5 linked regions of the Homo sapiens genome follow. The protein of the gene in region 1 purifies or fractionates together with the protein of each later gene. This does not show direct contact. Each region holds a gene or a part of one and is shown in the gene's direction. Other genes may lie near its edges.

What was found.
Region 2: the proteins of RNF170 (region 1) and ATAD1 purify together in Homo sapiens (affinity purification with mass spectrometry, with the first as the bait; one large-scale study listed by BioGRID). This does not show direct contact.
Region 3: the proteins of RNF170 (region 1) and ST7L purify together in Homo sapiens (affinity purification with mass spectrometry; 2 studies listed by BioGRID and IntAct, with this or other methods). This does not show direct contact.
Region 4: the proteins of RNF170 (region 1) and HSD17B12 purify together in Homo sapiens (affinity purification with mass spectrometry, with the first as the bait; one large-scale study listed by BioGRID). This does not show direct contact.
Region 5: the proteins of RNF170 (region 1) and ITPR3 purify together in Homo sapiens (affinity purification with mass spectrometry, with the first as the bait; one large-scale study listed by BioGRID). This does not show direct contact.

The regions. Positions count from the first base shown.
Region 1 is NC_000008.11:42,888,723-42,894,792, reverse strand, and holds part of RNF170 (E3 ubiquitin-protein ligase RNF170), read left to right. Parts: exon of another isoform or gene 1-826; coding exon of another isoform or gene 827-840; intron 841-5,378; exon of another isoform or gene 5,379-5,490; intron 5,491-6,070. UniProt on the Homo sapiens protein: E3 ubiquitin-protein ligase that plays an essential role in stimulus-induced inositol 1,4,5-trisphosphate receptor type 1 (ITPR1) ubiquitination and degradation via the endoplasmic reticulum-associated degradation (ERAD) pathway.
Region 2 is NC_000010.11:87,814,502-87,821,250, reverse strand, and holds the start of ATAD1 (outer mitochondrial transmembrane helix translocase), read left to right. Parts: upstream 1-3,024; 5' UTR 3,025-3,084; exon of another isoform or gene 3,085-3,456; intron 3,457-6,638; 5' UTR 6,639-6,651; coding exon 6,652-6,749. UniProt on the Homo sapiens protein: Outer mitochondrial translocase required to remove mislocalized tail-anchored transmembrane proteins on mitochondria.
Region 3 is NC_000001.11:112,608,899-112,614,968, reverse strand, and holds part of ST7L (suppressor of tumorigenicity 7 protein-like), read left to right. Parts: intron 1-3,965; coding exon 3,966-4,128; intron 4,129-6,070.
Region 4 is NC_000011.10:43,686,307-43,692,376, forward strand, and holds part of HSD17B12 (very-long-chain 3-oxoacyl-CoA reductase), read left to right. Parts: intron 1-6,070. UniProt on the Homo sapiens protein: Catalyzes the second of the four reactions of the long-chain fatty acids elongation cycle. This endoplasmic reticulum-bound enzymatic process, allows the addition of two carbons to the chain of long- and very long-chain fatty acids/VLCFAs per cycle.
Region 5 is NC_000006.12:33,680,322-33,685,152, forward strand, and holds part of ITPR3 (inositol 1,4,5-trisphosphate-gated calcium channel ITPR3), read left to right. Parts: intron 1-7; coding exon 8-133; intron 134-233; coding exon 234-359; intron 360-2,202; coding exon 2,203-2,323; intron 2,324-2,885; coding exon 2,886-3,076; intron 3,077-3,698; coding exon 3,699-3,847; intron 3,848-4,035; coding exon 4,036-4,144; intron 4,145-4,276; coding exon 4,277-4,367; intron 4,368-4,452; coding exon 4,453-4,622; intron 4,623-4,831.

The DNA.
Region 1 (6,070 bases):
CACGATGTCAAGAGATCCTGGCCAACATGGTGAAACCCCGTCTCTACTAAAAATACAAAAATTAGCCGGGCGTGGTGGCGGGCTCCTGTAGTCCCAGCTACTCGGGAGGCTGAGGCAGGAGAATCGCTTGAACGCGGGAGGCTGAGGTTGCAGTGAGCCGAGATCGCGCCACTGCACTCCATCCTGACGACAGAACGAGAATCTGTCTCAAAAGAAAAAAAAAATTACACATGTGTGTCTCGCCTGTGTTTGGTTCCTGTGTTGGTGCCTCTGGATATTTGTCAAACTAGAGTTCCTACATTCCTTATCAGGTTATTTCTGTCGAATCTCTAGCACTTTTAAGTGACGTATAATCTTGTAGGCAAGTGAATGAAGTCAGTGAGTATATGTCACATTGACTTACTCCTGACTCACATGCAGCTTGTCTTTAGATGGGCAGATAAGATGCTGGCCCTACTGGAGCGACTGTGGTTGTGCCGTCCTGAGCACCCTTCCTCCAGTGGCCCCGGTTTTCAAGGCTTTGACACAATGGACCTAAAGTCTCCTTTTTCAAGCTTGGCTGCATATCCACAGTGCTTTTGTGCATGATGTTACGTTGTTCTGGAGGTTTCATTTTGTAATTCCAGTTACCTTTGATGAAAGAAATTAGTAAAAACTTTTTGGATGTGAGTAATTGCAGAAGCCATGTGGCTGCTGAGTTTCTACGTAAGCCTTGGGGTAAAAAGACACTGAGATTCTCTCCTTTGTTCCAGGAAGTCCCGGAATTTCCTATTTTTCTATTTTCTCTGTGTGTTTTATTTTTTTTCCTTCCCTGAAAGCTTTGGAAATGCCTGAGGAGAGGTGAGTTGAACTTGTCTTAGCTGTCTGGTTACTCCGGTTAGTTGGAGGCTAGTTCTCACCCACAGCTGCTTATCAGATTAAAGAGGGCATGTCCTGTGTGACAGTGCTCCAGATTGCATCCTGTCTTCCCAGGGAACACATACTTAGAGCTGTGATTAAAGAGAGTTTGAGATGCTATGTGGAGCAGCTCTGGGGCAGGCATGGCTAGTTTTTATCATATCAAAACATGGCTAGTTTTATCATGATTCCTTGGCGGTTGTTAATAATATTAACCAAACACTGTAGCTTCCATTTACTGAGAGCCTATATGATGTGCCAAGCAGTATGCTAAATGCCTTACCTTCATTATCTCATTATAAACTTCACAAGGCAAAGCACTTCCCCTGCCACACCCGCCCCAAAAAAGAGTGGCAGTTTGATATGGTTCAACCTAATGCCTTTTACGTATGAGGAAGCTGAGACTGAAACTTTATGTAAGTCCAGGGCTGTCTGACTCTGGAACTTGTGCTTGTTTGCTGTCTGAAGATACTGCTCAATAAGATGTAGCCAGCTGAGCAATAGCAAAGCCAGTTTCTCTGCAAACTTCTATCAGTTACACTGCACAGTTTCCAAGATGGATGGGGTTCAGTTTTTGTGAATCTTAAACAGTTCAAAACCGAGTATTAGTAACTCTTCTTTTCATATTTTACAGGATACCATGAAATAGATTACATCCCATGTTCTATACATTTAATAACCTTGTTTTTGGGTTTAATGTAAACAACCTTTAGTGGCCACTACAACATGTAAGACCCTGCGCACTACTAACAGTAATAAGATATGATTCCTGACTGAAAGGAATTCATTCTTTAAAAATGTATTTTTAATTTTTATAGATGTATAATAGTTGTACATATTTATGGGGTACCTGTGGTATTTTTATACAAATATGTACAATGTGTAATGATCAAATCTGGGCAGTTTTTTGAGACAAGGTCTTGTTCTGTCACCGAGGCTGGAGTGCAGTGGTGCGATCTTGGCTCACTGCAACCTCTGCCCCCCAGGTTCAAGCAATTCTCATGCCTCAGCCTCCCGAGTAGCTGGGATCACAGGCGTGTGCCACCACGTCTGGCTAATTTTTGTATTTTTAGTAAAGATGGCGTTTCACCATGTTGGCCAGGCTGGTCTCAAACTCCTGGCTTCAAGTGATCCACCCACCTTGGCATCCCAAAATGCTGTGATTACAGGCGTGAATCACAGCACTGGCCTGAATCTAGGGTTTAAAAAAAAAAAAAAAAACGCTGCAACAGAGCCTCCAAATAACATGAAAAAATAAATCCAGTAAGATATTACTTTATATGCTTGGAACTAAGTGCTTAACATTCTGTGATTAATAATAATAAAATTTTGAGGGTGAAGCAATTGAGCACAGTATCTACATATTCTAAAACTGAACTGTAGTCACTTGTGGATTCTGTAAATATTTGGCACCAATAAACATTAATTTTTGGCTGGGCGTGCTACCTCACGCCTATAATCCTAGCACTTTGGGAGGCCTAGGTGGGTAAATTCCTTGACCCCAGGAGTTGGAGACCAGCTTGGGCAAGATGGTGAAACCCATCTCTACAAAAAATAAAACATTTAACTGAGCTTAGTGGTGCACACCTGTAGTCACAGCAGGAAGACTGATTGAGCCTGGGAGGTCGAGGCTGCAGTGAGCCAAGGGTGCACCACTGCACTCCAGCCTGGGTGACAGAACAAGACCCTGTCTCAAAAAATAAATTTTAAAAATTTATAAACATTAATTTGAGCAATATCTGTTTTTCAAGAAGGAAATTTGTGGTGTAGTGAGAGTGTTTAGCAGTTGACATGCCAGTCATGCCACTTAGGTCAGTGTAGGTGCCTCCGGAGTAGGCACCGTCAGGAAACTGAGCGACTGGGTGGTAGATGAGAATGGGCATTGACCGGGCATTGAAGCTCAGTTTGCATATCGAGAGAGGAAGCAAGTATTGGCTTTATTTTTCTTGTTAAAGTAATTCATACTTGAAAGAATTGAAACTGTGAAACTGTGTCCTAGGGAGGGTGATGGTCTGGTTTTGCCAGTCCAGCTTCTCACTGATAACCACTCTAATGTTAGCTTTGATGTGGCTTTTTCTCTATTCCGAAACTCTGAATCAGAGAAATTTAGCAGTAGAAGGAAGTGAAGAAATAAAGTCACAGTTGTTAACCTAAAATAATTTAAAAGGTCAAAATCGAGTTTAAAGAGAGTTTAAGTGTAAAGGTTGAGGACAGGCCACCTGGGAAAGGACAGATTTAAAAGCATGGAAGTCAGTGCTCGTCAGTATAGACATTTGGGATTGTTTATATAGACAAAATTTAGGGACATTTAACAGAATTTTAATATCTTAATGTAAGGCTTAATGTACAGTTATAATGATCTGATTAGTCAAGGTGCGTTTTTTAGGGAAGAAAGAATGTAACTGTCATGAGACCCCTGTTTGGGGCACCATCTGGTCTGAGTTAGGTACAGGACAATAAAGGAGGCAGTTAATCTGTAATAAAAATCAGCAATTAGAAGGAGGAGATCTGGTCTCTTTTAAAAAAAAGACTTAGTCTTTTTTTAGTTGTTTATAGAACAAGAACAATGAGGAAGAGTTAAGCTAAAAATCTAAGAAACAGAATTGTAAACATGTTACGTGACCCAGATCATAGTCATATCTCTTTCAAGGCTTAAGGTGCTTTGGAGGTTCTAAAAACGTTTGAATTTTATTTACTTTTACACAGTTGTTGTAACAGAATTGGAACTAAAATTCAGGGCTCCTCATGTCCAAGCAACAACTGCTTGGGCTTCAGTTTAGAGCCTGTATGGTTGGACAGAATCAGCAGCACTGTTTAGTTCTGGATAATCACTGACTGTGAACAACAAAAGTTGGAGAACAGAAGTCCTTGATTTTGGAATTCATTTTCAGGACTGAGGTATTATGTCATCTCCCCAAGTAGGAAATTTTGTTTCCTGTTTATCTTCTGGAGTTATAAATCAGACCAGCCTCTTTCCAAACTGAAGTGATGGTACAATACCTCATTTTTGAGCCACTAGCACCTGCAGTTGCTTTTTTACTCCAATTTTATGAGAAACTATGGCAGAAGTTGTGCTGTCGAAGCCCCCAACAAGCAGGTCAAATGGCATTAGTAGATCTCCATTTGACAGCCTGGCTTTTGTTGGGATTTCCATGGGACAAGAAAATGCAGTGCCCTTCCCTTTTCCTCTCAACACCGCTGAGAATATCTGCTGTCAAATGATGCAAATAAAATAATATGGACATGCAATACTTAAATATCCTGGATCTCTGAGCTCTTGGAAATGTACATGAAGCAATATCTTAAGAGTATAATCACAGGCCGGGTGCAGTGGCTCACACCTGTAATCCCAGCACTTTGGGAGGCTGAAGTGGGTGTATCACGAGGTCAGGAGATCAAGACCATCCTGGCTAACACAGTGAAACCCCATCTCTACTAAAAACAGAAAAAATTAGCCGGGTGTGGTGGGGGGCGCCTGTAGTCCCAGCTACTCGGGAGACTGAGGCAAGAGAATGACGAGAACCCGGGAGGCAGAGCTTGCAGTGAGCCGAGATCGCGTTGCTGCACTCCAGCCTGGGCGACAGAGCAAGACTCCGTCTCAAAAAAAGAAAAAAAAAAGTCTCAAAAAAAAAAAAGAATATAATCACATAGTAGTCAAATATTTATATATAATATATATTATATATATGTTGTACAGTATAATTTATTCGCATTACCATTGATTGCACCTTGAAGGACATAGAAACAAATGCAATGCATTTTTTTAAGTACAAAATAATAAACGGCCTAAATGTATAGCATAGAGGAAAATGTGAGTAGGAATAATTACAATGCATTTGTTGATAGACTTAACTTACAAAGCACTTTCACCTCTGTTCATTTGTTTTAACCTTCACAGCTCTGTGAGGTAATTAGAGGTTGGAAATCTTGACACAGGGGATAACATTTGGGTTATCTTTGAGCAGATGCAAGTAGTTCTCAGTGCCCTTAGGACTTTTGAAACAGCTACAGCACCTCTAATTTTAAGAGAGGAAACCTGATGAAATAAAAACCTAAATTGACTCCGTGGCCCACCCCTAGCTTATTTGAGGCTCTTCAGTTCAGTTGGCAGCTCATTTAACTGTTCTTTTGAATGAAAATACTGCAATTAGAGCTGTTTCTGTGAGTTTCCTGGTGTGCACCTTCGTAATAGTTACTTGAAACCAGTCATTAAAAGTTCCATATATCAGGCGATTAGTCCGTGTAAAGCTGATGAAAGCTGCCTTTCATCTGTTTGCGTAGGTTTCTTCCATGAGTGGTAATTTTCTTGCAGCCAGTTCAGATGATTTTCAAAGGTATTAAGACGTCTATACTCAAAATACCTGATTAGTGATGATATTGAATAAAACTTTTTTCAGCTCAATAAGTTACATAAATGCAGAACTTTATTTTAATTATTCATATATATTTAATTGAATATATATTCCTTAATTTCTCTTTAGGTGTCTTATAAGACTTTGACACTTCCTGTTTTGTCTGAAAAAAATGTGAATTACCTGTGATATTTGGACTCCAGTGTGGCTGGGCTATCTCCCCTCATACCTATAGAATTAGGTACTACCATTTTTCTCTAGTTTAGAGTGTAGGAAGGAAAGTTTCTTATCCTCCCTTTTCTCTTCATAAGGAAATGCAGCATCAGAGTGATTCTATATTCCAAGCAGTTCAAAGAATTCTGAACCATAAGCTGAGCTTAGTTTCAGGTGGACAAATAGTTTTTCAAGCACCAGAATTTTCATTATTTCAAGTAGTTTTAGTATAGCTATAAATGTTCTATAGCCTAAATGTCTTTTACTTTTCAAATTACAACACTGTAAGTATGGTAAGTCACTTTTATTTAAACAGATATCTATTAGGTCCTATTGTGTACAAGGCATATGCTAGAGAATATGAGAATGCTTACAGAAAACTATAATATATTTCCTTTCCTATCAATACATGGGAAATGCCACAAGATATACACATGCTGTGAGGGGGAAAAGGGATCTGATCTATTTAGAGAACTTATTTGGTATTCAGGAATAAGAAGAGAGCAGTTGGATAAGAATGGCTTTTATTTATTTATTGTTTTTGGTTGGGGGGTGGGGAGGTTGGGGGGCGGGGGACAGGGTCTTGCTCTGTCTCCCAGGCTGGAGTA
Region 2 (6,749 bases), on another chromosome or scaffold:
CAGCCAAGAACACCTAATTTAAGGAATCCTTTCTTCCCACCAGGTGTCTAGTGCATTAACCTTGATTGCAGAGCAAACTAGCTACACTCCATTTAATAACAAAAGTGGAAAATTCAGCACCTTGGAGGAGAACTGCCATAACTATTTTAAGAGTTACTGATACAGAAAACACACACACACAAAACCCAAAAACTTTCTAGAATAAAGTAATAATTCTTTTTAATATCTTGATTCTAACAAAGAGCAAAGGCCCAGAAAGTCTACAGTCTGCTCTAATTTCCTGATTAATATTATATATATTGAATTATTTATTGAGCCCCTACTGTGGGCCAAATATGGTATTTTGTGTTGCCAGGGATTATATAAAGCTATCCTGGAATGAAAAGCATATGTTCACTCTGCTGTATTCTGGAAGAATCTCATTGATTTGATGATTGCTGAAAATGAATGTACTTGATGTCTTAGGCCCAGACATGGAAGGTTTCTTACGGATTTGCTAAATGAAAATATTAGGTCCAAAACATATAGGTGTAGGCATTTGGTTTCCAGTGGCTGAACCACTGGAAAGGGAGTGAGGTGTAGCACTTTTCGAGCTTGTAGACTCTTTATGGTCAGCCTCGTGACTTTATTCAACAGTTTCCCTTCCTGTGCAATCATCCCTCAAATATTAGGCAGATGAATTGAGACTAGATGTAACCATACTGGGAACTCCATTTCATTGTAGGATTCATTTAGGATGTCTCTAGTAGAGTGACTCATGATTTGCCTGAGACTTTGTCAGCCAGTTTTATATCCCAGCAAACCTTTTAGTCTCATGCAAACTGAAACTGGGTAGGCTGGTCACCCTGGTCCTTAGAAGAGGGCAGGTGAGGCTCTTAGTTGAACCAATTTCACTCAGTAAATGAATGAAAATCCATTACTATCTTGAATTTCTCAGCTCATTTTCCTTACCAGTGGATATAATTACCCTATTGGGGCACAAAACCTGTTTCTTGCCTTTAGTGACCCTCCCCCTTTTAGCCCTGCCAAACCATGTGTCCATGAGCCTCCCAAGCAATGATTCAGCTTGGGATCATCCAAGGACCCAGTGGAGAGTCTCTTGAAAGTCTGCTGAGCACTGATAGCCTCTGTTTTTTGTTGTTGTTGTTGTTGTTTGTTTTTAATGAACATTGTCCTCGTCTCATAATCTTTCCGTTCTTCTCAAAGGTCTATCTCTCTAAATAGTCTAGTAATCCCAAACCTAGCTTCACATCCATTTTTTTTTTAAATTAGGAATGTAGGCATGCACGTATATAAAGCCTTAAATACTAAACAGGCACGGGTGTATTCAATTCCATTCTGATTCCTGTCCATGAACTTAATCATAGTTTTCAACATTCATGCATCCCTTTCATCCCATCCTTTAAAGCCTTGTGATTTTGGCATTTCATGGTCTTACTTTCAACTAGATTTTAAAGTTTAGCTGGTATTAAATTACCATCTCAAAGAGAAAACGTAAAGTACAAGGTATGAATTAGACAGACCTATGTTCCAATGAAATTGTTGCCTTTATTTCCCAAGTATATGAACTTAGAAAAGTTTCTCTAAGGTTTAAGCTTTAAAATTTGCTCATTTGTAAAAACGGAGAAAATGATAGCTATTTTAGAGGATTTTGGGGGAGATATTTAGGTTATGCATGTAAAGCACATAGAAGCTTATTGCCCCACCCCAGCAGACATTAACTAGGTATTATCTTCACCACATTATTACAAGTTTGTAACTAGTAACATTCGTTAACAATCAGGCTGCAAAATTGTTATTATTATTGAGACAGGGGCTTGCTCTGTCGCCCAGGCTGGAGTGGAGTGGCTTGATCACTGCAGCCGTGATCTCCCACGCTCAAGCGATTCTCCCACCTCAGCCTCCCAAGTAGCTGGGACTACAGACATGCGCCACCAAATCCAGCTAATTTTTAGGTGGTTTTTTTTTTTTTTTTTTTTTTTTTTTTGTAGAGACGATTTCTCATTATGTTGTCCAGGCTGGTCTCGAATTCCTGACCTCAAGTGATCCTCTCGCTTCGGCCTCCCAAAGTGTTGGGATTACAGGCGTAAGCCACCGCGCTGGCCAAGCTGCAGAATTCTTTAGCCATCAAAGATGATGCCTCAAGTAGAAAGGCACAAGCTGCCTTCCTGAGGAACACAGGGAGAACTCTCATTACATCATAGTCTCACCGACTCTGTCTGAAGGAAGTGATGCTTCTCGTATCTCAGGAGTGTCTAATGTCATCTGGCCCACCGGCAGTTTGTGTATTCAGGAGGCTCTGGCTTTCAGGTTTGCTCCCTTGGGACCTCTTGTGTCACGTCGCTCGTTCTGGAAAGGAAAAGGGGTGAAAGAAAAAGGGAAATCACCAAAATGCAAAATCTGTTACCAGATGCCCTATTCCGTCCTAACTACCGAGTCTGGTGGCGTGGGCTGCTAAATCTTTTCGCGGAAAGATTGTCAGGCGCCACCCCGAGGTGTTTGTCAGCACAGAGATGGGGGAGAAGGGTGAGCTCACCCGAGAATTGAAAGGCAGGTGGTGAGGGATGAGGGGTGAGGAGTGGAGGGTGGCCATAAGCTTCTGCGTTTTGGCTAAAGTACAGACACAAAGCCGCGGCGTGAGGGTTTGCACAGAGTGGTGGGAAGGAGAGAATGTATTTGCTGGGTACGCAGAGCATTTCTGCACTCTCAAGAAGGCTGCCCGATTTGTCAGGGTTGCGCCCCGAGCCCGCGAGAAGGGCAGGGACTTTTTGTGATAAGCGCCTTCCCAAAGGTAGTGTCTGTTAAACGCAGAGCCTTAGCGAGTGCTGCTCGCAGACACGCCGGCTTCGCAGAAAGTCTCAGTCTAGCAGGTAGCTTAAGCAGACATCAGGTGCGCGAATTTGCTCTCCCTCACTGTTTCTAAGCCTGGGAGCACGCCCCCTCCGCGCCGGCGACCGCGGGTCGCGCATGCTCCGTGGGAGGGAGTGCGCCGCGCCTCCCGCCGGAAGCGTTCTCTCCCAGGTTGCGTTTCCTTCCTGTGTGAGGCCGGCTGAGGGCACTTGCTCTTGCTGTTTCTGCCCCTGGGTGAGTAGCTGGTTCCCGTGGGGCCTCATGGGATGGTTGTCGTATCCTTCTGAGGTCCTTTAAGGACCGTCTCGGACCTGGGAACCCCCGGAGGAAAGGTCACCCCGGTCTTCTCCCACGCCCTACCTCAGTGCCGCCCCCAAGCGCCCCGCAGCCCTTAGTATCTAGAGGATTAACCTCCAAGGGCGTCCCGGGCCTCGCCTTGGCGTCCGGCCCGGCCTGGGCCCTTAGGGTCTGCTTAGCTCTTCCCCAAGACTCGTGCCATTCCCGAGGGAATCTTTGTCGGCATCCTGGTCACTGTGGGGGTTTGAGGTCGTCCCGGAAGACTTCAGAACCAGGCGAACCTAGACGAAGGCGGCTGGAATGAACCAGGTCTGATTGTCGCACAGGCGCGGCCACCACCTTGTGCAAAATCGAAGGTGGTTCTTCAGGGCCGGGCACGCTTTCACAAAAGATGGTGATGTTAATAATAACCTGCCCTCTTTGTGAAGATTGGCAGGCCTTCATTGTCATAGGCTGTATTCGTAGGGCCTTTATGCCTGCAAAACTGGGACTTTTGAGTTTGAGAAACGATTTGTGAAATACTGCAATGAATTAGGAGAGAAATACTACAGTGAATGCTATGCTATGAATGCTATACATGTCAATAAATTGCTCATAGATGAGGTAGTACGATTTCACGGTTTTCCACTCGGAAATGGAGAACTTAAAATGAAACGACCTGATACCATATTTGCCTAACAAATAACTCTAGGTTATAGTGTTTTAGGATGTTTCTTAGTTGCATACAGCACTATCATCGTATATGTACATATTTGTGTATTCATTTTGTTGAACCTAATGTTTATACAGGATTGAAATACGCTCCCTGCTGTTGTATGCGCATGCAGCTTTTATTGTATGTTCGCTGGTGATGGTATTGCTGCTGTAACAGCCTTACATTTTAGGTATATCAATACCAAATGAATGATACATGAGTGTACAATAAAGTATATATAGTTACAGTCTACAAAACAAGTTTCAGTTTCATTGAAGGATTTTGAAGTAATTTAAAAAGGTAGACTACTATTTTACAAGTGGCCTTAGTAGACCTAAGTCTTTATTACATTAAAAATTTCAGAATTGGGAAGGATATAAACGGGTTTTGTGTGTTGACCTTTTATGGGATTAAAAGTTGTTACTATCTTGATGACTGGGATGTGTTCATAACAGCCCTAATTTGTTCATGTAGTTCAATGAATATCCAGTAGATGACTTGGTTGGTAGTTTTATCACTACCAACTCTAAAACGAAAACGTTTTACTGGAATGCCACCGCTTTTCACAGATTAGGTTAATAAAACCCTTATCTTGTCTAAATTATTTTCCTCTGTGAGTATACCCCACGTAGTGATATAACACGTTTCAACTGCATTTTCAACTTTGTGGAATAAAGACTAGAAAAGTCAGTTTTTTACTTCCTATGAGAAGTGAAATATTGTGTAACCCGTTTTTTTTGGAATCCATGCTGATGGAAGATAGCACACTTTGGTTTGTTCCATGAAGAGAGATTTCAGTTAGGTGCCTTCTCCTTTTTGGCTTCTTTTGCTTTCTTTATAATTAATATAATAGCCGGACAGTGTGTTCTTTGAATGAAGTGGTGATATCTTAACAATTATTGTATATCCAATATATAGTGGGCGTCATATATAGATGTTCAGTAAATGCAAATTGAATGAATTAAATCATTTACCATCCCTAGGCCAAAGTTTCTTCCTCCAAAATGAAGGCTTTCAATTATTTAGTTGTTAAGTTTAAATTAAATCTAATTATTGTGAAGTGAATGGCTCCTAGTGGAGAAATGTGGAACCTTTTGGAAATCCTTCAGAAGTGACTGTTGCAATGATTGAATGGGAGATTTCCTTCAGTTACAATTTATCTGTTGAACATAATTTTTGAATAGCCTCTGTTTTGTGTGTGGCAATTATAAACGTCTGTTTTGTGTGTGACAGTTATAAAGGTAGATAAGATATACATCTTGTTTATAAGGATTTAAACTCTAGTCGAGTAGATATCTCAAAAGCAAGACTTTTTTAAGATAGTGTAATAGGGCGAAATGAATAATACGAAGATTCATGTGATTTGAAAGGCTTTATGGAGCAAATAAAGTTGATTTTTGAAGTTAGGATAGAATTTGACTAATCCTAGGTGAATGAGGGTAAATGGCCCATGCAGGATACTAGACAGATACGCTGAAGGGAAAATATATGTGGGATTTTCAGATGGTAGTGACTCCAGCTATTTATAGAGTCCCTTTGAAAAGAGGTGAAAGAGAAAATGCTTACAATTGACTCTGGAGCTAGATTCTAGATTAGAATAGTTTTGAATGCTTGGGAAACGTATAAAGGAAATACTTTGGGGTCTTTTGATTAGAGAGAAGGAGTATATATCCTTGAGTGGAGGTGAGGGGTATAAAAGGAAATAAAAAATTTTTGGAGCTATTCTAGAGGGAGGAAGGTGAAGAGGCTCTTTAATTTAGTAGTAGTGAGAGGAGAATTTTAGAGCTGGAAGGACCATGGATATTAATCTTTGCAGTACCTAACTTTTATCTGCTGAGCCATACAAATTCTGTTTTTTTTCATGTTTATGTAAGTACAAATATATATTCTCTTTTTCTTATATATCCCATAGCATTCAGCACACTCCTGTGCTGAGAGTATAATGGCAGTATTTGAAGCTAAGATCCTATCTCCCAAAATGTGATAGTCATATCATCCCTAACAAGCTTATTCTTCCGGGTAGTTATTGCCATTGACAGAGGAGTGTATGTCTTCTGTAAGCCTAGCTTTGATTGATGTAGCTGTTCAGGGATATATGCAAAAATAGGCACATTTATCTCATTTTTTTTCTCTTTAGCTTGGGTGAGTGCTGTATTCTTGTAGTAGTTGTCTCAGTTCAAGATTTTTCCAAGTTCTATTGCTTCCTACTTAGCCCGGTTGTTGGGAACAATAGTGTGGCTCAAAAAAGTTAATACCACTTATTACTGAGGAAATGGCATGTTTAAATTTAAGCAGGCCTTGAAAACCTTTAAAAGTATGTATGAGGAAAAAGTGAGTCAGTTCACAATTTGAATTTCACTCAAAAATTACCTGGTATATGATACAGTTAATAGAAGAAATTCTTACCGTCACATTAGTATTGTTGGGCTGCCTTTCTTCAGTTGGATTAGTGTTATAGTTGATACTTTCCTAGACTCTGAAATAGTTCTTTAAAGCTGTTTTGAGTAAATACCTTAAGATATTTACTGTATTTTTCAAATAAAATGATTAATTCTACTACCAAATAAATCTTAATTTCTAGTCTACTTCTAGTTTGCAAGAGGAGCTTTAAATGTATTTGTTTACTTAACATTTAAAAATCCATTTCTCCTTAAAATGAAACACTTTTTTTAAGGTAGGTAATATTTTAATTTGACTAGAAGTTAGTTTTTCTTTCTTAGTTTAAGCTACTTTGTTAGTCTTACAATTTTAATAAGTATAGTTATTACCTAGTGACATTTCTGTTTGTTTTTTTAAGGTTAACATTCAAGATGGTACATGCTGAAGCCTTTTCTCGTCCTTTGAGTCGGAATGAAGTTGTTGGTTTAATTTTCCGTTTGACAATATTTGGTGCAGTGACATACTTTAC
Region 3 (6,070 bases), on another chromosome or scaffold:
AAGAAGATATTTTTAATTTAAAAAAAATAAAATATTTTTTATAATTCACGTTAACATCCCTAGGATGTCATGTTTACTAGTGTACACTTTGGAACAATACTGCTGCAGATAAAAATCTTAAGAAGTTTTATGCCATGCATAGCCAATAAATTTTTCTCTTCCCTTTAAATTTTTATTTATTTTTTGTAGAGACAGAGTCTCACTGTGTTGTTCAGGGTAGTCTCAGACGCTTGGGCATAAACGATCCATTCTCCTCGGCCTCCCAAAGTGCTAAGGTTCCAGGCGTGAACCACCATGCCCAGCCTGTTCTTTTTTTTATCTCTAGGTGGTGCTCTCCAGCTGTAGTAGAAATAGCATTTGTATTGGATCTATTTTTTTAAATAGGGACTAAATACAGACCATTTTGTTAAAGTGAAATGCCAAACAAGAACGAGATTTTTCTCTTGGCTAAAAAAAATAGAAGCTATTGAGGAATTCAGGATTAAAACTACATGTTAATATAAGCCTCATAATTTAACATAAGCATATTTTAGCATGTTTAGTCCATAGCATACAAAAGTCTAAGTAAAGACGATAAACTGTCTTTAAGCCAGGCACGGTGGCTTACACCTGTAATCCCAACACTTTGGGAGGATGGAGTGGGAGAATCCCTTAATGCCAGAAGTTTGAGACCAGCCTGGGCAACAACAAGACCCTGTCTCTATTTAATATGGTTTTTGTTTGTTTGTTTTAAAGAAACTATCAATATTAAGCAGCTGATATAGTGGAAAAAGCTCTGGTTTGGGAACCAGAAGATAAAATTTTGAATCTTAACTCTGCCACTTACTAGCTGATAATTTTGGGCAAGCTACATAAACTGTCTAAGCTATAATTTCCTCATTTATAAGAGGGGGATAACTTATATATATGATGTCTAAAACCTTGTAAAAAACTTTTTGTGGCCAGGTGTGGTGTCTCGTGTCTGTACTGCCAACACTGTGGGAGGCTGAGGCAGGAGGATTGCTTGTGGCCAGGAGTTCAAGAGCAGCCTGGACAAATGAACAAGATCTGGTCTCTGTATAAAATTTTAAAAATTTAGCGCGTTGTGGTGGCGCATTCCTGTAGTCCCAGCTACTTCAGAGACTGAGGTGGGAGGATTGCTTGAGCCCAGGAAATCGTGGCTGTGGTGAGCTGTGATCATGCTACTGCACTCCAGCCCGGGCAACAGAGTGGACCTTGTCTCAACAACAAAACAACAACAACAAAAACCCAAAAAAACCTTTTGTTACTCTTTATAAAACCGCATTTTAAATATACACAAATTAGGAAATTCAAGTAACATTTTAAAGGTTAAACTGTATTATTACCCTTGCAATGTTGATGGGTTTTTATTAGCAAAGGTTGTTGTGTTTATAATTTCTTTTACCACCTGGATTTAACAAACTTGTATATACATATAATCACATATACATGTATAAAGAGATATATTTATGAATCAGTCTGGTGTAATGGTTGGAAGCTCCGAAGTCAGGCAAACCTGAATAAGAATCCCAGCTCTGCCAGTTACCAGTGATGTGAACTGTTATTTAAATTTGGAATGTGTGTCCTCATCTCTAAAATCAGTTGTTATAAAAATTAAATGACATAATGCATGTCAAGGATTGGCATAATGTGTGGCTCATAGAAAGCTTTTGATAAGTATTTGCAGTTATTATTACCATTGTTCATTTGTGTTAAAAAGTTGACTCAAAAGTTGAAAAAAGCCCCTAACTTCATACTCATTCATTAGAAAACCCACCTGCACTTTGTATGGTGAAGGGAAGTGTGTTGTTGTTGCCCTTGATGGTACTTATCTTCTCTTTTTTTTTTTCGAAACAGTGTTTTACTCTGTCACCCAGGCTGGAGTGAAGTGGTACAATCACAGCTCACAGCAGCCTTGACCTGCTGAACTCAAGCAATCCTCCCACCTCAGCCTCCAAAGTAGCTGGGACTACAGGCACACACCCTCACACCTGGCTCATTTTTTTTATGTTTTGTAGAGATGGGGTCTCACTATGTTGTCCAGGTTAATCTCAAATTCCCAGCCTCAAGTGATCCTCCCACCTCAGCCTCCCAAAGTGTTGGGATTATAGGCATGAGCCACCGTGCCTGGCCCTATCCAATTTTCTTAGCCAAGATTTATTCAATATAAACCTTTTCTGTCACATGAACAGTTTCTGCTTGTGTAAAGAAGTTTTATCTCACTTCTTAGTAAAATATATGGTAGAAGTCAAACCATGGCCTCATTTGGTGGTAATTCTTGCTAACTTAAGAGTGAGCAGAAAGAGATACCATTTTAGACTGAGCATAAAACATTAGTGACATGATAGAAAAAATGCTGCACCATGATTTTCTCACACTTTCCTATAAACGTTGTGGCATGTAGTCAGCGGGCCCCAACATGACTATACTTTTGGCACCTATGTAGCATATTTGTTCTGTTATTTACTGAAGCAAAAAAATAACATTCCTACAGATTTGAAAATGCTGATTTTTTTGTGATGGGTTCTGTTTGTGGTCATAGTAAAATAGTTTTCAAAAATATTATAATCTGGCCGGTCATGGTAGCTTACACCCATAATCCTAGCACTTTGTGAGGCCAAGGAGGGCAGAGCGCTTAAGCCCAGGAATTTGAGACCAGCCTGGGCAACATGGCAAAACCTTGTCCCTACAAAAAACATAAAAATTAGCTGGGCATGGTGGCACATGCCTGTAGTCCTAGCTACACGGGAGGCTGAGGTGGGATGATCACCTGAGCCCAGGGAGGTCAAGGTTTCAGTGAGCTGTGATCATGCCACTGTACTCCAGCCTGGTGACAGTGGGATCCTATCTCAAAACATTTTAAAAAAAGGAAATAAAAAGATTAAAATCTCTTAGTTGTGCATATGCTTTGTTTATTCTTTAAAGTAATACATGTATCCACTACATTTGGCAGAAGACTAGTCTGTCAGGTGACTTTTTTTTTTTTTTTTTTTTTTTTTGAGACAGGGTCTCACTCTATTGCCCAGGCTGGAGGGCAGTGGTGCAATCTCAGCTCACTGCAGCCTTGACCTCCTTGGGCTCAAGAGATCCTCCCACTTCAACTTCCTGAGTAGCTGGAACTGCAGGCATGCACCACCTCACCCAGCTAATATTTTATTTTTATATTTTTCTGTAGAGATGAGGTCTCACTGTTTTGTCCAGGCTGGTCTAGAATTCTTGGGCTCAAGCGATTCTTCTTGAGGATCCCTCTTTTGGGACTTCTTGGCCTCCCAAAGTGCTGGAATTACAGACGTGAACCACCGTGTCTGGCCTGGTTTCTCTTTTTATATCAGTGATAAACCATGGAAATAGAAAGAAATGAATATCCTGATTTTTAAATGGTTCAATATGGGAATCAACTTGACCTTAACCTTTATTAATAATTTTGCCAAATACCAGAGTAGTACTTTTTGCTTCAGAAAGCACTTTCTTATAATTCTTGTTAACCACATTTAGCTGAGGCTCTGAGATATTAAGAGATTAAGTGACTTGCCCACAGCACACAGCTAATAAATGACTGATTTGGGAGTTAAAACATGGGCATGCTGATGCTAGTCTAGTCTGTTCATCCACTATGCTTATTATTTGAAAACTGTTTATGCTGCAGATAGAATAAAATGACAATGTAACTTAACAGAGTTAAATTACTTATAGATTAAAATGCTTCTTTCTGTTTTTAATGCTTTATTACATATGCCTAGTTTTGCTTAAGCTTGTCTAAATTTTATGACGGAACTATAAAAAATGTATTTCACTTTTACGTGACATGTTATTGGTGAATCTTGTGTTTGTATGTTTTTTTCTTTTTGAAAGGAGAGTGCATTTAAAATGCTGAATTGAACAGGACATCTTGAGAGAATGTTTTAATTTGAGCTCATGTATCTGCTGATCGATTCTAAGTGCAGGATATTTTCTGTTTGTCATAGATATTTGAATGGTGGTACTTCCATAAGCATGGCACATCTTTTATTGAGCAAGTATCTGTAAGCCATTTGCAACCACTGATGGGAGGAACAGAGAGCAGCATTTCAGAACCAGGTTCTCCTTCGAGGAACAGAGAAAATGAAACCAGCAGACAGAATTTGTCAGGTGACTACTTTTCTAATGTGTTTTCAGAGCTGTGTATTTAAGATTGAGTTTGGCTCTGGGAGATAGAAAACTCAAAACAGCAGAGTGCTGTGGTGTGCATGTTTGTGTTTCCCCCAAAATTCTAATCACCAATGTGATGTTACGAGGTAGGGTCTTTGGGAGGTGATCAGGTCATGAGGGCAGTGCCCTCAGGGATGTGATGAATGCCCTTATGAGAGACCCCAGAGAGCTGCTTGCCACTTCTACCGTGGGAGGACACCACGAGAAGGCGCCGTCTGTGAACCAGAAAGCAGACCCTCACCAGACACCAAATTTGTTGGTACCTTGGTCATAGACTTCCCAGCCTCCAGAACTGTTAAAAATAAATTTATACTGTTTATAATCTACGCAGTTTGTGATATTTTGTTATAGCAGTCCAAATGGACCAAGACACAGAAATTTGTCTTTCATGTTAATATAGTTAGTCCATGGCTAGTATGGAAAACAATAATCATCAGATACCCAGACCCCTTCTATTTTGTTAGCCTGCCATCTCCAAATGTAGTTTTTACTTTGTCGTGTAAGACTGTTGCTCTTGCTTCAGCCATCATATCCACATTCCAATCAGTAGGAAGGAAAGAAATCCGGGGTAAGGTCACTACTTCCCTCTACTCCACCCCACAGAAGCCAAGGACTATTCTCAGAAATGTTACATACTATTTCACCTTACTTCCTACTGGTCAGGTCTGTTTCATATGGCCATTACTAGCTATAAGGAAGGCTAGAAATTTTCATCATTTTCTCAGTGTATATATATATATACGCCCAGCAAATCAGGGAATCTTATGACTAATAAAGGAGAGAACAGAAACAGCCATCTCTGCCAAGAGAGAAAAGTAGGAAAAAAAATTTTTTTCAGTATACTTAAAAAGGCATCAAAGTCTCAGCTCTTCATGGATGGATATTCCATTGTCATACTTTTATTGTAGACTGTTCCTCTATTTGTGTCGAGTAATCGCAAATTTATTTATTTATTTAGTTAGAGACAGAATCTTGTCTGTTGCCAGGCTGGAGTGCAGTGGTGCGATCTCGGCTCACTGCAACCTCTCCTTCCAAGTTCAAATGATTCTCCTGCCTCAGCCTCCCGAGTAGCTGGGACTACAGGCATGCACCACCATGCCTGGCTAATATTTTGTATTTTTAGTAGAGATGGGGTTTCACCATATTGGCCAGGATGGTCTCAATCTCTTGACCTCATGATCTGCCCACCTTGGCCTCCTAAAGTTCTGGGATTACAGGCGTGAGCCACCATACCCAGCATTTTTTTTTTTTTTTGAGACGAAGTCTCTGTAGCCCAGGCTAGAGTGCAGTGGTGCAATCTCAGCTCACTGCGACCTCTGCCTCCTGGGTTCAAGTGATTCTCCTTCCTCAGCCTCCCAAGTAGCTGAAATAACAGGCATGTACCACTGCACCCAGCTAATTTTTGTATTTTTAGTAGAGATGGGTTTCACCATGTTGGCCAGGCTGGTCTTGAACTCCCGACCTCAGGTGATCTGTCTGCCTCGGCTTCCCAAAGTGCTAGGATTACAGGCGTGAGCCACTGAGCCTGGCCAGCTAGAAAGCAAATATTTTTAATGATACATAATTAGGAAAGGAAAATTTACAAAGCCAAATACAATTATTATTATTATTATTTTAATAGAGATGAGGTCTCAGTATGTTGCCCAGGCTGGTCTCGAACTCCTGGGCTCAAGTGATCCTCCCACCTCAGTCTCCCAAAATGTTGGAATTACAGGTGTGAGCCATCGCTCCTGGGCCAAAATGAATATTTTGGATTATTGTTCCTTTCACTGGGATAGGTAATAACCATATAGTAATAATACAAATGAGTTAATTCCATAATATTCCAAATGCCTCATTTGTTCAATAGCTTACCACTAGAGTTATGATAGTTTAGTAGAAA
Region 4 (6,070 bases), on another chromosome or scaffold:
TGAATATTTGTTTATTCTGCCCTTTGGCTCCCGAAAGGGAGTACGTGTGCCTAAATGGAAAAAGTTCTGCAGATTAAAGTTGGCAGGGCAACTTTCAAGTACTAGTGCTGGAGTCTACATAAGAGGAAACAGATGCAACTGAAGATTGGACCTAAAAGCATACCTTTATTTGATTTGGAGGAAAAACCAAAGAGGGAGGTTTCCTGGGATTACAGATCCTGAGTTTACATTCCCTGAATATCTTTTTCCCTCACTCCCCTCCCGACTAGCCCCCATTGCTCCCACCCTGTTTTTTTTTTTTTTTTTCCTGTTCTTTCTTTCTGTGCAACACTAACTTTCCTATTTAGAGGTCAAACTTGAACTTGGAGACCCAAACCTAGACTTGAATTCTAGCTTCCCTACAGATTTCATAGGCTTATTGTGAAGGGTAAATGAGAATACTTATTCTCTGTAAAACAGATAGTACATAAGTGCTTGATAACTTGTTATTATTATAGTATTATTAGCCTTAGTAGCACTGTGCTCTGATTACCTGAGCTAATTGCCAGGGTAGGGTTTAGAAGAAAGAGTTGATATCTGGGTGACTACATTGTCAGATAACTGAGATTACCATTGCTACTTGCAACTGAGAGTGTTGAGCTTTAAAACTAATTTTTTGTTGTTGTTGGTTTTGGTTGGTTGAATTGAGGATAATTTATTTCTTTCAGTTTCAGAAAAATTTGTCAGATTTACATAACAAAATTTATAAGTTTAGAATGCATGGGTAAACGGATTTGAATAGATCAGTTTCAGTGCCATTAAAAGCTATTTGTAGATAAGGATAAGTTAAATGTATATTTTAAAAACAGTGCATCCTTTATTTCATTTCCCTTCTTGTCACTCTTAGCAAAACAACATGTAGCAATTCATATGCATGTCATCTGGGATGGATTGAGATTAAGGTTAGGGAGGCAGGGTGAGCAAAGCCCTCACTGGGCTTGGTGGAGAGTATGACATAACACTATTCATTTGCCCATTTATCCACCACAAATACTGTTGAGTGCTAACTATAGACCTTATAATAGTCCAATGGGATGACAAACAGTAACAAAATGAATAAACTGTGCTATGGTAAGTGGTGAGAACAGGAAGTATTTGGTCCTATGAGAATTTGTGAGGGAAAGTTCTAGAGCTGTGCTGGGGAAGCAGTGCCTCAGCTGAGATCTGGCGGTTGAGTGTAAGTGAGCAAGCTGGAGTGACAGGAAGGGCAGAGGGAAGAATGTTCTTGGCAGAAGGAAAAGCAGTTGCTAAATTCCTAGGGCAGGAAAGGGCAGGGCCCTCATGAAACGAGGGCTGAGTGACGAGCCAGGAAAGCTCAGATATGAGTGCCATGGAACTGGAGAGGCAAGAAGGGCAATGAGCAGGGCCTTCAGCCTTTATCCTGGAGCAGTGGAAAGCAGTTGAGGTGATTTTAAGCAGAAGGGTAACACTGTTGTGTTTGCAACTGTAAGCCGAATTTCTTGTTTCTATGACTTCCCTAGAGTTATTGCCGGCCCTCTTTGGGAAAACATTGTTACACAGAGATAGATCAGTCTAGGTATTCAGATAAACTCAGTTAAAATTGCCTTTTTTAAAATGTCAATTGGCTGGGCGCAGTGGCTCATGCCTGTAATTCCAACACTTTGGGAGGCTGAAGTGGGCGGATCACTTGAGGCCAGGAGTTTCAGACCAGCCTGGCCAACATGGCAAAACCACATCTCTACTAAAAATACAAAAATTAGCCAAGTGTGGTGGTATGCACCTGTAGTCCCCGCTACTCGGGAGGCTGAGGCACCAGAATAGCTTGAACCCAGGAGGCGGAGGTTGCAGTGAGCCGAGATTGCACCACTGCGCTCCAGAGTGGGCAACTGAGCAACACTCTGTCTCAAAAAAAAAAAAAATTTAATGAATACAATAAAATGGGAATTTATGCTTTTTGTAAGGGATGCTACTTTTGTGCACTTCTTAGTTATCATCTCTCAGAGACCATTTCTGTCTGGGGGAAAAGTCTGATCACTGTGGTATGGGAAGTTCTTCTCTTACAGGGACTGAGTGATGGGGTTATTGAAACACTGAAACTAGGTTATTGCGTTGTCATGGTAACTCCATAATACCATGGTGTGGTAGTTGAGAAGCTTGCCACAAATCTGTATCAGAAAGAACGCTTTGTTTTATTTGTCGATTTTTGTCTACAAAACAATGCGTTTGCCCTATCTCTAACTGGCAATTCCAGGAAAACTATCCAGTTTCTGGAAAGTTATCTTTGCCACCATTTAGTGAAGTTATTTCCATTTAAATAACCTAGTCATTGTGGAAGAGAGGAAGGGCTAGACAGTTTAAGAACTTGAACAATTGGTGCCTCTCAAGAGTATTACATTGGGAAACAGTATAGCTAACAAACAGATTGGCTTTGGAGTCAGTGGGCAAGCTGTGCTGTTACTAAGCTGGTTGACCTTAGGCAAAAATAGTTAACCTCTGAGCATAACTTCTTTCATTTTTTAGGGGGATGATACTTTTCGGGATTATTATGACAATTAAATGAGATGTAAATGAGGTTCTAGTATAGTCCTTACTGTATTTTTATGAATATTAAGTAACATATATTTAAGAGCATCATTTGTTTGTATAGATTACTCTTATTGGATGAAAAGGGATTGTTGAAACTAAGAAATAATTGTAGTTCACTCAGCAGGTATACACTTGAAAATCTAAAATTATGAACAGACCAATTAGGAGATGACTAGTGCTACTGCAGAAGAATTCCTTGCTTGGGTAAAAGATTTACTAAGCAGTTCCTTTATATATAGATCCCCTTAGTGAGTAAATCTAAGATAGGAAGGACTTCAAAAAATTTGGTTATTTATAATTTTTCAATTACATTTGTAAAAACCTTAGAGTTATCTTTAAGTCTTCACCACATGCAGCCTTTTAGGAAATCCCGTTGACTCTGAACTTCAAAATATCCAGAATCTAGTGAGTTCTAAGCCACCACAGACTCTTGTCTCTCTAATAACAAGTTTCTTATCTCTCTGCTTCCACCTTGGCTCTCCTGCAGTTGATTCTCACACAGCAGCCACAGTGATCCTTGACAAGCTTTGGTCAGATTATGTGATGCTCTGCCTAGATCTCTCTAGTGGTTTCTCACCCACTCAGATTAAAACTCAGTATTTGTCTCGTGGCTTTGAATAAGGCTTTATTTTATTTTATTCTATTTTATATTTATGTTTATTTTTATTTTTTGAAGCTGGGTCCTGCTCTGTCACCCAGGCTGGAGGGCTGTGGTGTGATCTCAGCTCACTGCAGCCTCTGCCTCTCAGGTTCAAGTGATTCTCCTGCCTCAGCCCCCCAAGTAGCTGGGACTACAGGCGAGTGCCACCACACCCTGATAATTTTTTTGTATTTTTATTAGAGACGGGGTTTCACCATACTGACCAGGCTGGTTTTGAACTCCTGACCTCAGGTGATCCACCTGCCTCAGCCTCCCAAAGTGCTGGGATTACAGGTGTGAGCCACCGCACCCGGCCTGAACAAGGCTTTAAACCACCTGCTTCCTGCTTCCATTGACCTCTGACCTCATCTCCACTACTCTTACTCCGTTCCACCCACATACACCTCTTGCTGTTCCTTGAACAACCTTGGCATTGTTGCTTTGGGGCCTTTGCTTTTTCCTCTTCACGGAATGCTCTTCCCCCAGATATCCATGTGACTGACCCTTCTTACTCTCCTTCAAGTCTTTGCAGAAATATCACCTTTTCAATGGAACCGCCCCTCCTACCTATAAACTCACAGTCGTTTCTCCCTCACTCCCACTCCTATCCATTACCCTGCCCCACTTTTCCTTTTTGTCATAGCACTTGTCACCATCTCCCCTACTGTATACTTTGCTCATTTATGATGTTTCTGTTAGAATGTGAGCACTGTAAGGCAAGGATCTTTGTCTTTTAATCTCAAGCACCTAGAACAATGTCTGTACACAGTAAGTGCCAATGTACCTTTGTTGAATTAATGGAAATATCTGTTAAGTAAGGTATTCATACATATATATATATATATATATATATATATATATATATATATATATTTTTTTTTTTTTTTTTCTGAGACAGGGTCTCACTATATTGCCCAGGCTGGCCTCAAACTCCTGGGCTCAAGCAATCCTCCTGCCTTAGCCTCCTGAGTTGCTGGGACTATAGGCATGTGTCCCAGCTGTGTCTGGCTTCCAGTCTTTTTAATATTAAGGGATAATGATTTTTGTGAATTATCTTCTCTTTTTACATTCTCTTATCAGCTACAAATCTAACAAATATTAGCGGTTTCCCAACCTCTAAGAATGAAATTATTTAATCTAAAAATATAGAGTAACCTCAGGACGAAGTTCTCCTAATACAGACTCTGGAACTAGATTACCTACTTTTGAATCCCAGCTCAGCTAGTTACAGTGTTATCACCTTAACTTCTGTGTGCCTCAGTTTCCTCATCTGTAAAATTGGGATAATTATAGATTGGAAATACTGATTAAATGGGGCTAACTGATTTAATGTGTGTGGAATACTTAGACTACTGAGAACACTACCTGACATTTCAATGTTAAATACTATAGAAATGATAGCAGATATTATCTGATGGGATGATTCTGATTTTATCCACATGCATCTTTTCCCGACTTTCCCTCAAATTTCTAAAGACACTGCATATTCCCTTCTAGATGATTATCAAAGTCGTCAATTTTAGTATGTCTAAAATTTAGCTTTTCTACTCTCCCCAGCGTGTTCTGGACTTCCTTATTTTTGCTAATTATGTCATCGTCTTGCTAGTCATGAAGCTCCAAATCAGAGATGGCAAATTCTGATGCCTCAGGCAGGTCAAGTAAAATGAGTGAAGTGGACCAGGTGTAATGCATGTCAAGACACTGTCCAGGTAACCAGGCATGGTCTCTAGTAGCAGCCTTCAGCAACACTGGCACAGTCCTCTCAGATTTTCACCAGCAGCCCAAATCTAGATTTTCATATAGAAAGTTTCTTAATTGTTTAGAGTTGATGCAAATTTCTCAGGTTTACTCTGTGGACCAAATAAATTATGTCAGTGGCTAGATGCATCAAGTAGCCAGTTTGCTCCCTCATCTCTAAGTCTTAGAATCATGCTTTCCTTTGCACATCTAGACAGGAAATTGCCAAATCTTGCTGAATCTACCACTACAGTCTCTCTCGCATCCATACCTTCCTCTATGTTCTCCTAATATATTGCCTCCCTACCAAATCTTACACTCACTCTGGCGCAAGTTTAATCTACCAGTGAAGCCTCCAATCAAGTTACCCCTTCCTTATACCTTACACATACAGGTCAGAAGTTTCATAATGTCTATGCAAACATCAGGCTCCTTGGCCCTTTTGATCTTGGCCTTGTGTCTGTTTCTGATGTCACCTCCTTTGCACCCTTCCTTGGATGCATCCTGGATGACGTCCTGTGTCCCAGACATGCCTGTGCTTTCCTGCTTCTTGCAGCCTCCAGGGCCTTGCTTGTGCAGAGGCATTTAGTAGGTTTTGGTGGTTGTTGCATGTTGGCCTCACTCTGCCTGAGGTGCTCTTTCTCATATTCCACACTCTTCCTCACTCTTCCTGTTTGTGAAATTCTACTCATGTTCCAGAGTGTCAATTGTGACTTTTTGCATTGAGAGCTTTCTAGATGATAGTGACTGTGCACTTTTGGAACTCTAATAGTATTTCTTGTATTCATTCTGGTGGGCTTTTTCACAGTTTACCTTATTAGTCGTGTGTATGTATATGTGTGCATGTATCACTTCATTTGCTCAAAAGTGTATTTGCACTATAATATTTCATGAGTGAATACTTTTTTCCTTGAGGTTCTGGTGTATTTCAATTGGGGGGTCAGATGTTTTGCTTTAGTTTTCTATTTTTTGTTCTACTTTGCAAAATAATTTGTGAACTGTTTTTTCTCCTTCTTCTGAAACCTCAAGTGCTATACATCTAAAAATGCTAGATTGAAAATAAACCAAGGCTGGTTAGACAAAGCTGGTTACAGAGTTATGATAGCA
Region 5 (4,831 bases), on another chromosome or scaffold:
TGCCCAGGTGAAAATGGCCTATGTGAACTTCGTGAACCACTGCTACGTGGACACGGAGGTGGAGATGAAGGAGATCTACACCAGCAACCACATCTGGACGCTCTTTGAGAACTTCACCCTGGACATGGCCCGGGTCTGTCCCTGTGAGGGGTGTGGGTGAAGCCCCCCAGGAGGTGTGGGAGTGGAGGGGCCCCATGTGAGGAGCCCCCAGCCATCCCTCTCTCCTGCCTCAGGTCTGCAGCAAGCGTGAGAAGCGCGTGGCTGACCCCACCTTGGAGAAGTACGTGCTGAGCGTTGTGCTGGACACCATCAACGCCTTCTTCAGCTCCCCATTCTCTGAGAACAGCACTTCCCTGCAGGTGAGCTTCTCCTCTCCCACCACCCCAGGGCCGACTTGCCTAGCTTTTGTGAAGGGAAGGGGGGAAATAAGAATACATATTTATATTTGCTTATAGTACAGAAAGAAGTAACAAAAGGATACATAAGTGTATTGGTTATCTTTTTTTTTTTTTTTTTTGAGATGGAGTTTCACTCTGTCGCCCAGGCTGGAGTGCAGTGGCGCGATCTCTGCTTACTGCAAGCTCTGCCTCCTGGGTTCACGCCATTCTCCTGCCTCAGCCTCCCGAGTAGCTGGGACTACAGGTGCCCGCCACCACGCCCAGCTAATTTTTGCATTTTTAGTAGAGACAGGGTTTCACCGTGTTAGCCAGGATGGTCTCAATCTCCTGACCTCATGATCCGCCCACCTCGGCTTCCCAAAGTGCTGGGATTACAGGTGTGAACCACCGCGCCCGGCCTAAGTATATTAGTTATCTATACCGTGTTAACAAATTATCCCCAAACCTAGCAGTTAAAACAACAAGCATTCGCTATCTCAGTTTCTGTGGGCCAGAATGACGGTGGGAATGGTACCATCCAGCAGGAACTCCTAACTCCAGTGGGTGGGCGGATCCCGGAGTGGCAGCACTTATTCACCAAAGATAAGGCAGACGTGCCATCCATGGGATGGTACAGCCAAAGCAGGGATCACGACAGTCTCCCTGGCAGGATCCTTCGTGCTGGCTAGTTGATCATAGTGATCTTAGAACTGAAATAGGCAGGCAGCCTTCTGAAGGCCTAAGCAGAAGGGCTCCAGGCCAGTGTACAGAAGCCTGATTTGAATCTCGAAAGATTCATGGCTCCTTGGTCAATCCCCAGATTCCCAGACTCGAGCCAGTGCTCAGCCCAGAGCCCCCCTGAATGAAAGCGAGCCAGGTTCCCTTAAGGAAGGGCCCTGCTACATGACCGAAATCAAAGAAACACTGGAAGGATACAAAAGAAACCCACAAAAGGGGCTACCTAGGGGCATAGGAGCTGGGGTGGGGTGGGATCGTGCTTCTAAGTCTGGGGGGAAAAATGCTGAGTCCTGCCTTCTCAGGAAGGGTGGTGTATTTTGACACACATTGTTTGGGCCCTGGGATCGCATTGGGACGATGGAACTCTGGTAATTGATATCAGCTTTCCCCATCCTTGATCAGCTCCAGGGCAATGAGGGTGATGGGGGAGAGACTTCTCAAAGTGTTATGTTTTTTTTTTTTGAGACGGAGTCTCACTTGGTGCCCCAGGCTAGAGTGCAGTAGCACAACCTTGGCTCACTTGCAACCCCTGCCTCCCAGGTTCAAGCAATTCTCCAGCCTCAGCCTCCTGAGTAGCTGGGATTATAGGCACCCGCCACCACGCCCGGCTAATTTTTGTATTTTTAGTAGAGACAGGGTTTCACCATGTTGGCCAGGCTGGTCTCGAACTCCTGACCGCAAGTCATCCACCCACCTTGGCCTCCCAAAGTGCTGACATTACACGTGTGAGCCACTGCGCCCAGCCTCAAAGTGTTATCTTTTAAATAACCTTTTGGTTTTTCAACCATGTAAATCCATCACCTTTTTATGACATTAATTTTTTTAAACATTTTTTAAAAGGGTCAGCAACATGGCTATGAGCCCACGGCCTTGGTGAGTTACAGGGCTGCCGTGTACAGTTGGGCAGGTCGTGCACTGCTGAAGGGAATACAAGTACCTTTTTCCAACTGGCACAGAGGCACATGGTGGCTAGTGAAGGCTCCGTCTCTCCACCCATGCCCATTCTGATTGGGCCCTGGTTCCTGGACCTGGGGTTGCCCAGGGTGGGGGCCTGGGCTGCAGCAGCGGGCTCTGTGACTTCTTGCAGACACACCAGACGATTGTGGTGCAGCTGCTGCAGTCTACCACACGCCTCCTCGAGTGTCCGTGGCTACAGCAGCAGCACAAGGGCTCCGTGGAGGCCTGCATCCGGACCCTCGCCATGGTGGGTGAGTGTGCCGGGGCACTGGCCAGCCCCAAACCACTCCTCCTGCCGCTCACAGTGGGGACGCCTGCCCTCCTAATAAACACTTTATCCCTAAGCTCGCCCATCTCCTGCTCCCAGGTGGTTGTCAGTAAGTTCTTCTTGGCGTCTGCCTCATCCTGGCAATTGAGAGAAGCTGTTTTCTCCTCTGGGTCAGTTCCCCAGAGAAGGATGCTCGCCGACATTCTCCAGCTAGTTTTTTATGGGTATTTGCAGATGGGCTCAGGCAGGAGCAGGCCTGTGGATTGTTAGGGACAGTTGGGGAAGAAGAGAGGACAGGTGAGAGAGAGGAAGGGGAAGTCAGGGTAGAGCCGGGGGGAATCAAAGAGGCAGAAACTCCTTTTACCCAACAAGGGGAAGAAAGCCTCTCAGTCCCTCAAGCATAGGCCGGGGTGGGGGGGGTCTCTGTCTCCCAGACCCTTGGTCTAGTTCACTCTGTCTCCTGGTGTGGCAGCCCTGAGCCTGGCCTCTGGCTGGCTGAACTGCCCCCGCACCAGCACTCCAGCACTCCCTCCCTTCCCACCCAGCCAAGGGCCGGGCCATCTTGCTGCCCATGGACCTGGATGCCCACATCAGCTCGATGCTCAGCAGTGGAGCCAGCTGTGCAGCTGCCGCCCAGCGGAACGCCTCCAGCTACAAGGCAACCACGCGGGCCTTCCCCCGCGTCACCCCCACCGCCAACCAGTGGGACTACAAGAACATCATTGAGAAGCTGCAGGTGGGTGTGGGGCTGCCTGGCATCTGCCTCGGGAGCTGCTTGGTTGAGTCAGCAGCTCCCCTACTTTGGAGGGGCAAGTTCTCGGGGAGTGTTTCTTCCTGTCCTGCCCACACTTCCAGGAAGGGGCTGGTTGGCTTCTCTACACTCTGGGGCTGCTAAGGGCCGACCCAGCAGCAAGGGACTGGGGAACCTCCTTCCAGAGGAAGCCTGGAGAACCCAGAGGCCTGCTAGTGGGGTTGGAGCTCATGAGGGGGTCGGGACCACCCCTCACTCCTGCAGCGCCCTCCTGTCTATGCAGCACATTTCTGTGCGCTGTCTCGTTGGCCTGTAGAGGGGGTGTGGTGGATTATTTTCCCCACGTGGCAGGAGACTGAGGCTCAGAGAGGCTAAGGGGTTTGCCCAAGGTCACACAGAGCTGGGAGAGAAGCCAGGCTTGGCAGCTCCCAGCCAGGGCTCTGAGCAGACAGACATCACGCTGTGTTCAGGGTGTCTCTGTGGGTGTGGGCCCCTCAGACAGAGGCAGGGCAATCTGTGGGGCTGTTTGGCGTTTGGGTCGGAGGAATGGCAGTCACACCCGGGTCATTTCTTGGGCCTGGCAATGACTCTGCCCTGCCCACCCCAGGACATCATCACAGCCCTGGAGGAGCGGCTGAAGCCCCTGGTACAGGCTGAGCTGTCCGTGCTGGTGGATGTCCTGCACTGGCCTGAGCTGCTCTTCCTGGAGGGCAGTGAGGCCTACCAGCGCTGCGAGAGTGGGGGCTTCCTGTCCAAGTGAGCGAGACACTGGGGCATGGGGGCAGCAGGGGTGCAGCGGCAGGGGACAGAGAAGGGCCCGGTGGGGACTAGACAGGCTCACTGGGTCAGAGGGCCTGGGGGTGTTCCTGCCTGGGATGGGGTGGGGAAGTAGCTGGAGGGAGGCAGTGTGGGGCTGCCCTGAGCTGCCTCCTTGGCCGGCTCAGGCTGATCCAGCACACCAAGGACCTCATGGAGTCGGAGGAGAAGCTGTGCATCAAGGTGCTGCGGACCCTGCAGCAGATGCTGCTCAAGAAGACCAAGTACGGGGACCGGGTGAGTGCCCTGGTGGGGCAAGTGCTGGGTGGGCCAGTCAGGAGTACCCAGGGGCTCAGGGTCAAGCCCGTCAGGCCAGTGGTCAGTGGTGGGCTGTACCCACAATGGGGCCTCACTCCCATCCTCCCCCAGGGCAACCAGCTGCGCAAGATGCTGCTGCAAAACTACCTCCAGAACCGGAAGTCCACCTCGCGGGGGGACCTTCCCGACCCCATAGGCACTGGTCAGTATCACCTTCCCCTGCCCCCGGGCCCTCCCTTCCACTCTCCTGTCACACCAGCTCTCCCTCAACCGAGTCCCGCCTCCAGGCCTGGACCCAGACTGGTCGGCAATCGCAGCCACCCAGTGCCGGCTGGACAAGGAGGGGGCCACCAAGTTGGTATGCGACCTCATCACCAGCACCAAGAACGAGAAGATCTTCCAGGAGAGCATCGGCCTGGCCATCCACCTGCTGGATGGTGGCAACACAGAGATCCAGGTGTGGGGGGCCTGGGGCCTGGACATGCCCTCCTTTGCCTCCCTCCCTTTTTGGAGGAGGTGGGCCTTGAGTTGGGCACTGAAGGCCGAGGAGGGTGTGAAAGAGGAGAGGCCTGAGCAGTGGCTGAGAGGTGAGAAGAGTGGGCATGATGGGGGCAGGGTGGTGAGGAGACGGGCTCAGGCCTGGCTGGGGCAGAGGGGTATGCGGGG